Homo sapiens: one gene and its partner. The protein of the gene in region 1 interacts with the protein of each later gene in a biochemical or structural test. Each region holds a gene or a part of one and is shown in the gene's direction. Other genes may lie near its edges.

Region 1 (3,428 bases):
TGCCACTGCACTTCAGCCTGGAGGCAGAGTGAGACTCCATCTCAAAAACACACAAACAAAAAAAAACCAAAAATAAAATTAGCCGGGCGTGGTGGCATATGCCTGTAATCCCAGCTATTCCGGAGGCTGAGGCAGGAGAATTGCTTGAACCCGGGAGGCAGAGGTTGCAGTGAGCTGAGATCGCGCCATTGCACTCCAGCCTGGGCAACAGAGCAAGACTCTCAAAAAAAAAAAATTTTAAAAAGGGGGAATATTAGTCTTGATTTTAGGGGAGGCTGGGCAAGTTGGGAGCACAGTGGTCCAGATGTCCTGGCTTAGCTGATGTCCCCCGTTTCCTGCCAGAGGACATATCAGTGGTGTTCAGCAGGGCCTCCTGGGAAGGTCGGGCTGACTTCTCCCAGGCCGACGTGCACCGCCAGATTGCCATTGTGTTCAAGACGCCGCCCTACGAGGACCTGGAGATTGTCGAGCCCGTGACAGTCAACGTCTTCCTGCAGCGGCTCACCGATGGGGTCTGCAGCGAGCCATTGCCTTTCACGTACCTGCCTCGCGACCATGGTAACTACAGCAACCCAGGGTGACCCACCACCTCGGAGACTAGGTCTTTGGCCTTGGGGAGACCCCAGTGGGGATGGGAAAGAGGCAGAACTAGAATGCAGGCTCAGAGCTACAAAGACAGTGTTCAGATCCTGGCTCTGCTGCTTACTGGTTGTGTGACCTTGGCCTCTCTGAGCCTCATTCTTCTGTGCAAAATGGAAATAATAGTAGCTGTCCTGTGACATTTGGAGAGTATTTAATCTTTCCTCCCCTCAGCATCCTGCACATGCCCGGGCCTGTGCTCGGTATTGCTAGAGACACAGCAGTGACCAGCACGGCCCCTAGCTGTGTCCTCATGAGGCTTATAGTCCTGAGGATAGGGGACAGCCTGTCCCTACAGAGTGATGACCAGAGTGGGCAGGACTGGAATGAAGTGCTCAAGGGCTCACATTGCCCAGAGGGGGTACCTGACCCAGCTGTAGGTGTCAGGGAATGCTTCTTGGAGGAGGGGACAGCTGAGCTGAGGACAGGAGGATGACTAAGCAGGGAAGTTTTCTAGGGAAATAGTGAGAGTGGAGGAAGAGTGCTTTAAACAGCTGGAACAGCAGGTGCAAAGGTCCTGAGGCCGGATTGTGCCTGGGGTGCTCCAGGAACAACAAAGAGGCCAGTGTGTAGGCCGGGCGCAGTGGCTCATGCCTGTAATCACAGCACTGTGGGAGGCTGAGGCAGGCGGATCACCTGAGGTTAGGAGTTCGAGACCAGCCTGAACAACATGGCGAAACCCCGTCTCTACTAAAAATACAAAAATTAGCCGGGCGTGGTGGTGGGCGCCTATAGTCCCAGCTACTCGGGAGGCTGAGGCAGGAGAATTGCTTGAACCCGGGAGGCAGAGGTTGCAGTGAGCCAAGATTGTGCCATTGCACTCCAGCCTGGGCAACAGAGCAAGACTCACTACAGGCACCCGCCACCATGCCCGGCTAATTTTAGTATTTTTAGTAGAGACCGGGTTTCGCCGTGTTGGTCAGGCTGGTCTCGGACTCCTGACCTCAGGTGATCCGCCCACTTCAGCCTCCCAAAGTGCTGGGATTGCAGGAGTGAGCCACCACGCCCAGCCAAGACTCCATCTTTAAAAAAAAAAAAAATAGGCCTGGCACAGCAGCTCACACCTGTAATCCCAACACTTCGGGAGGCCAAGGCAGGCAGATCACTTGAGGTCAGGAGTTCAAGACCAGACTGGCCAACATATAGTGAAATCCCATCTCTACTAAAAAAATACAAAAATTAGCTGGGCGTGGTGGCGCACACCTGTAATCCCTCCTACTTGGGAAGCTGAGGCAGGAGAATCACTTGAACCTGGCAGGCAGAGGTTGCAGTGAGCCAAGACCGTGCCACTGCACTCCAGCCTGGTCAACAGAGCAAGACTGTCTCTAAAAATAAATAAATAAATAAATAAATAAAGGAATTAATTATTATTGATGAATTACTTCTTGTGTGTCCCTGGTATCTCCTTAACAGACAGCTACGGCGTGGACAAGAAGCGGAAACGGGGGATGCCCGACGTCCTTGGGGAGCTGAACAGCTCTGGTGTGTGCCCTCTGCCCCTTTCCACCCCCATCCCCAGGTTCTGGGGAGGGGACAGCTGACCCCACTGCCCTGTCCCACCCCAGGCTGGGGAGGAAGGGCTGTCGGGGAACAGGGGTCCTCATCTCTGCCTTCCCTCAGACCCCCATGGCATCGAGAGCAAACGGCGGAAGAAAAAGCCGGCCATCCTGGACCACTTCCTGCCCAACCACGGCTCAGGTGGGTCCCAGCTACACATAAGCCCCTGTCCCCTGGGTGGGCAGAGGGTAAGTGGCAGCCCTGCTTTTCTGGCCTCTTCACGCCCTCCAAGAGCAGCCACAAGGCGAGTCACTCAGCACTTAGCCAGCAACATAGAGTAGAAAGAATGAGGGCTTTGGAGACAGAATGGAAGTTCTGATCTCTTCTGGGCCATTTCCTTGCTATGTGAACTTCATTAAGTTGTTCTACCTCTCAGAGCCTCAGGGACTCCTTTGAAAAGGCCCAGTACATACTTAGCTCAGTGGTGTTTTAAAATTTGATCTATTTCTTCTTTCTTTTTTTTTTTTTTTGGAGATGGAGTCTCGCTCTGTCGCCCAGACTGCAGTGCAGTGGCATGATCTCAGCTCACTGCAACTTCTGCCTCCTGAGTTCAAGCGATTCTCCTGCTTCAGGCTCCCAAGTAGCTGGGACTAAAGGCATACACCACCACACCTGGCTAATTTTTGTATTTTTTAGTAGAGACGGTGTTTTACCACATTGGCCAGGCTGGTCCTGAACTCCTGACCTCAGGTGATCTGCTTGCCTCAGCCTCCCAAAGTGCTGGGATTACAGGCATGAGCCACTGCATCCCACCTATGATCACATTTAACTGCATTTACAGCAAAACCCAAAATAACAGGGGCTTCAACAGGATAGAACGTTATTTCTTGTCTCACATACATAGTCTGTAGGGACTGAAAGTGGCTCATGCCTGTAATCTCAGCACTTTGGGAGGCTGAGGCAGGTGGACTGCTTCAGTCCAGGAGTTTGAGACCAGCCTGGCCAACGTGGTAAAACCCTGTTTCTACTAAAAATACAAAAATTAGCCGAGTGTGGTGGTGCACACCTGTAGTCCCAGCTACTTGGAGGCTGAGGCAGACAAATCACTTGAACCCAGGAGGTGAAGGTTGCAGTGAGCCAAGATTGCACCACTGCACTTTAGCCTGAGCAACAGAATGAGACCCTTCTCAAAACAACAACAACAACAACAACAAAACAGGCCTGGCACTGTGGCTTACGCCTGTAATCCCAGCACTTTGGGAGGCCAAGGCAGGTAGATCACGAGGTGAAGA
Region 2 (3,814 bases), on another chromosome or scaffold:
ATCCTCACAACATTCCCCAACCCCTCCCCATGCACCACTGAATCCCCAGAACCACCCACAGGCCCCCTCCCCACTAGGGTTGCCAGATACAGCAAATAAAAATAGAAGACACCCAGTTAAACTGGAATTTCAGATGCACAGATGCATACTTTTTTAGTGTGAGAATGTCCTGTGTAATTTTTGGGACATACTAAAAAGCTATTTCTTGTTTATCTAAAATTCTATGTTAACTCGCTGTCCTGCATCTTACCTGGCAACCTTACTCCCCTGCCCCCAGCCCCAGGAACCTCCCCAACTCTCTTCCTTATACCTGGAGTAGCTCCTCACCCCCTTTTCCAGCTTCCCAGCCCCTTCTTCCCGTCTTCTGCAGGGACGTGGCTCGGGGCTATGAGAACGTGCCCATTCCCTGTGTCAACGGTGTGGATGGGGAGCCCTGCCCTGAGGATTACAAGTACATCTCAGAGAACTGCGAGACGTCCACCATGAACATCGATCGCAACATCACCCACCTGCAGGTGAGTAGGGGGCCCGGGGCCTCCCCAAAAGGACACCGAGAGCTGCCAAGTACAGTTGGACAAGCTTCAAACCAGCAAAGGCACCTGGCCAAGGAAGGGTTGGCTGAAAGGGAGCCCTGGTGTGGGGTCGCATCCCCACCAGGGGAGGGATCCTTTTCCTAGGTCACAGCAAGGTATCATATGAGCTCCCAGTAGCCCTGGGGACACCACCATACTGATTACCCGTCACCCTAGGACCATCACCACCCACTGTTGTAACACATGGACCCCAAAGAAAGGACAGTGGTTAGGGGGTCAGGGGGCATCAAGAGTAGAGGGGCCCAGACCGATCATGGGGTTGAGCTGACCTCTGCCTCCTCGCCCCAGCACTGCACGTGTGTGGACGACTGCTCTAGCTCCAACTGCCTGTGCGGCCAGCTCAGCATCCGGTGCTGGTATGACAAGGTGCGTGCCCCTTGCCTTGGCCACAGACACCCGGCCCCTCCTTCAGAGGAGCCAGCCTCCAATAAACCAGCTCCCTGGGACCATGTCCCTCACCTCCTACCCTGTGGGGGAAGTGACTGAGAGGACTGGGCAAGGCCTGGGAATCCTGGGATGTGGCTGGGACAGCGATGGGCGTGTGCCCAGGTCTATGCAAACCAGGGATGATGCTCCTGCATTTCGTGCTCTCGGATCTCAGAGCCTGTGTGACCTCCCCAACCCCAACTTCCCTGTCTCTGTAGAGTCTTGGGGTTCCTGGGTGGGCAGCTGAGGTGGGCCCCACAGAGAAACCACTATCCTCCCCTCCGCACCCTAGGATGGGCGATTGCTCCAGGAATTTAACAAGATTGAGCCTCCGCTGATTTTCGAGTGTAACCAGGCGTGCTCATGCTGGAGAAACTGCAAGAACCGGGTCGTACAGAGTGGCATCAAGTGAGGCCCTGCTCCACAGCCCACCCTCTCCCCACCTCACCCTTTCCTCCCTGCCCCTGGGGCTTTTCCAGGGCCTCCACCCAACAGCGCCATCTCTCCTACCCCCAGGGTGCGGCTACAGCTCTACCGAACAGCCAAGATGGGCTGGGGGGTCCGCGCCCTGCAGACCATCCCACAGGGGACCTTCATCTGCGAGTAAGTCACCGGGAGCACCTTAACACCTGGTGGGAAGGGGATACATGGCCACTGCTGACTGCCAGGCCTCCCTCTCAGCCATCTGCCCTGATGAGTCACATGTCTCCATCTGGCCACTCTCCAGCCAGCCTCCTCTGACCCCTATTCCTGCAGCTGAGCAGCCAGCCGCCTCTGACCCCCATCCCCCCAGCTGAGAATGGCACCTGCCTCCACTCTGCCCAGACCACAGAGCTTGTCTTCCCTCCCCTCCACCTCCACCCTCTACCTTCCCCTCCACCCCCTCCTCGCCCTTCCTAGCTGGAGAAAGTGCCAGTTTGGGAGACAAACAGACTTGGGTTTGAGCCCCTCTCTGCTTCTGGATGTTCTTGGCCAAGTTACTTAACCTCTTTGAGCCTTATTTTTCTTGTCTGTAGAGTGGAGGTGATAACAGCTACCTATCTGTCCACCTCCTCAGGGGCCTGTCCCTCTCCATCAGTTCTTTCTCTGCCCAGCATCTGTAATCTCCCCCTTTCTCTTGGCTGCCATCCCACAACCCTCAATCTTACTTTAGTCTCCTTTGGCTCTTTTTTTTTTTTTTTTTTAATTTATTTTTTGAGACGGAGTTTCACTCTTGTTGCCCAAGCTGGAGTGCAATGGCACAATCTTGGCTCACTGCAGTCTCCACCTCCCAGGTTCAAGCGATTCTCCTGCCTCAGCCTCCCAAGTAGCTGGGATTACAGGTGCGCACCACCACACCCGGCTAATTTTTTGTATTTTTAGTAGAAACGGAGTTTCACCATGTTAGCCAGGCTGGTCTCCAACTCCTGACCTCAGATGATCCGCCCACCTCGGCCTCCCAAAGTGCTGGGATTACAGGCGTGAGCCACCGTGCCTGACCATTCTTTGGCCTTTAAAAAAGATAGTCCTCTAACCATACTTGCCTGTTCAACAGACCATCCAGTTTCTTTCCATCATGTCATCTCTCAACTTCTCTGGCAAGCAGCCCCTTCCTGCTGGGCCTCAGTTTCCCCACCATCCACTCACTGCCTGTCCCTGCCAAAATCGGCCTTTGCCCTTCCCACTCTGCTGAAGCTGTCTCTTGACAGTCACTTCCCACCCACGTCCTCTCCGTGTGTCTGAATCTCCCATGTCTGCTCACCCTCCTTAGATAGCTGGCTCCTCTCCTCCCTCTGGTGTCCAGATATGTGTGGGTGCTCTTGCCCCGAATCATGCCTTGAGTTCCTTGCCACTCCTGTACCTCTGGCTCTTCCTGCAGTCCTGGCCCCTCTCCTGTTCCATATCGCCCATTCCTGCCGGGTGGCTCCTGGAACACAAACCTCTCTGTGTCCAAACCCGAACTTCCCCACCCAGGCCAACTGCCCCTACACATTAATCCCCTTAACCACAGAGCTTGTTGTCTGTCTCTGTGCTGACTGAAGGCTTCCTCTGTCAAGGCTGGAATGCTGCCCTTTCACTTGCCCACCACTGCTGCTCCAGGCCTTCCCTTCCCCACACCTGCCAGCCCTGCCCATTCCAGATTCCACAGGCTTGTGAAGAGAGATGGGGCCTGGAGCCACCTCCTAATAGCCCACACTCACCTTCAGAACCATGGATTCCTGTCCCACAGGTATGTCGGGGAGCTGATCTCTGATGCTGAGGCTGATGTGAGAGAGGATGATTCTTACCTCTTCGACTTAGACAACAAGGTGAGCAGGAGACCCTCCTTACCCTGCTGCTCCCCAGGGCTGGCTTTCAGGAGCCTCTGGGAAGTCAGCAAATGGAAACCTGGGGAGGAGGGACTGGGGAGTCAGTGGGTGGGGAGGGCAAGCAGGGTCGGGGGAGATGTGAAGAGTGCCATCCCCCTGCCCCAGGATGGAGAGGTGTACTGCATAGATGCCCGTTACTATGGCAACATCAGCCGCTTCATCAACCACCTGTGTGACCCCAACATCATTCCCGTCCGGGTCTTCATGCTGCACCAAGACCTGCGATTTCCACGCATCGCCTTCTTCAGTTCCCGAGACATCCGGACTGGGGAGGAGCTAGGGTGAGACTCTAGGGGTCTCTAGGGGCTCTGCCAGGGGGTGGGAGATGCAGCAAACCTGGGACCTGAAGGCTGGCATGTACCTGGTGTCCAGGCATGGAGTAGTGCAGAGCTTCTCAGATTTCAGTGTACATAAGTATTTCCTGGAGGACTTGGGGAAACAGTCCTG

The links.
Region 2: the proteins of RELB (region 1) and EHMT2 form a complex in vitro, tested with the Homo sapiens proteins (one study listed by BioGRID).

Annotation. Positions count from the first base shown.
Region 1 is NC_000019.10:45,032,192-45,035,619, forward strand, and holds part of RELB (transcription factor RelB), read left to right. Parts: intron 1-342; coding exon 343-558; intron 559-2,052; coding exon 2,053-2,121; intron 2,122-2,259; coding exon 2,260-2,337; intron 2,338-3,428.
Region 2 is NC_000006.12:31,880,507-31,884,320, reverse strand, and holds part of EHMT2 (histone-lysine N-methyltransferase EHMT2), read left to right. Parts: intron 1-116; exon of another isoform or gene 117-370; coding exon 371-515; exon of another isoform or gene 516-881; coding exon 882-959; exon of another isoform or gene 960-1,311; coding exon 1,312-1,427; exon of another isoform or gene 1,428-1,535; coding exon 1,536-1,622; exon of another isoform or gene 1,623-1,648; intron 1,649-2,760; exon of another isoform or gene 2,761-2,925; intron 2,926-3,199; exon of another isoform or gene 3,200-3,228; coding exon 3,229-3,307; intron 3,308-3,472; coding exon 3,473-3,648; exon of another isoform or gene 3,649-3,814. UniProt on the Homo sapiens protein: Histone methyltransferase that specifically mono- and dimethylates 'Lys-9' of histone H3 (H3K9me1 and H3K9me2, respectively) in euchromatin.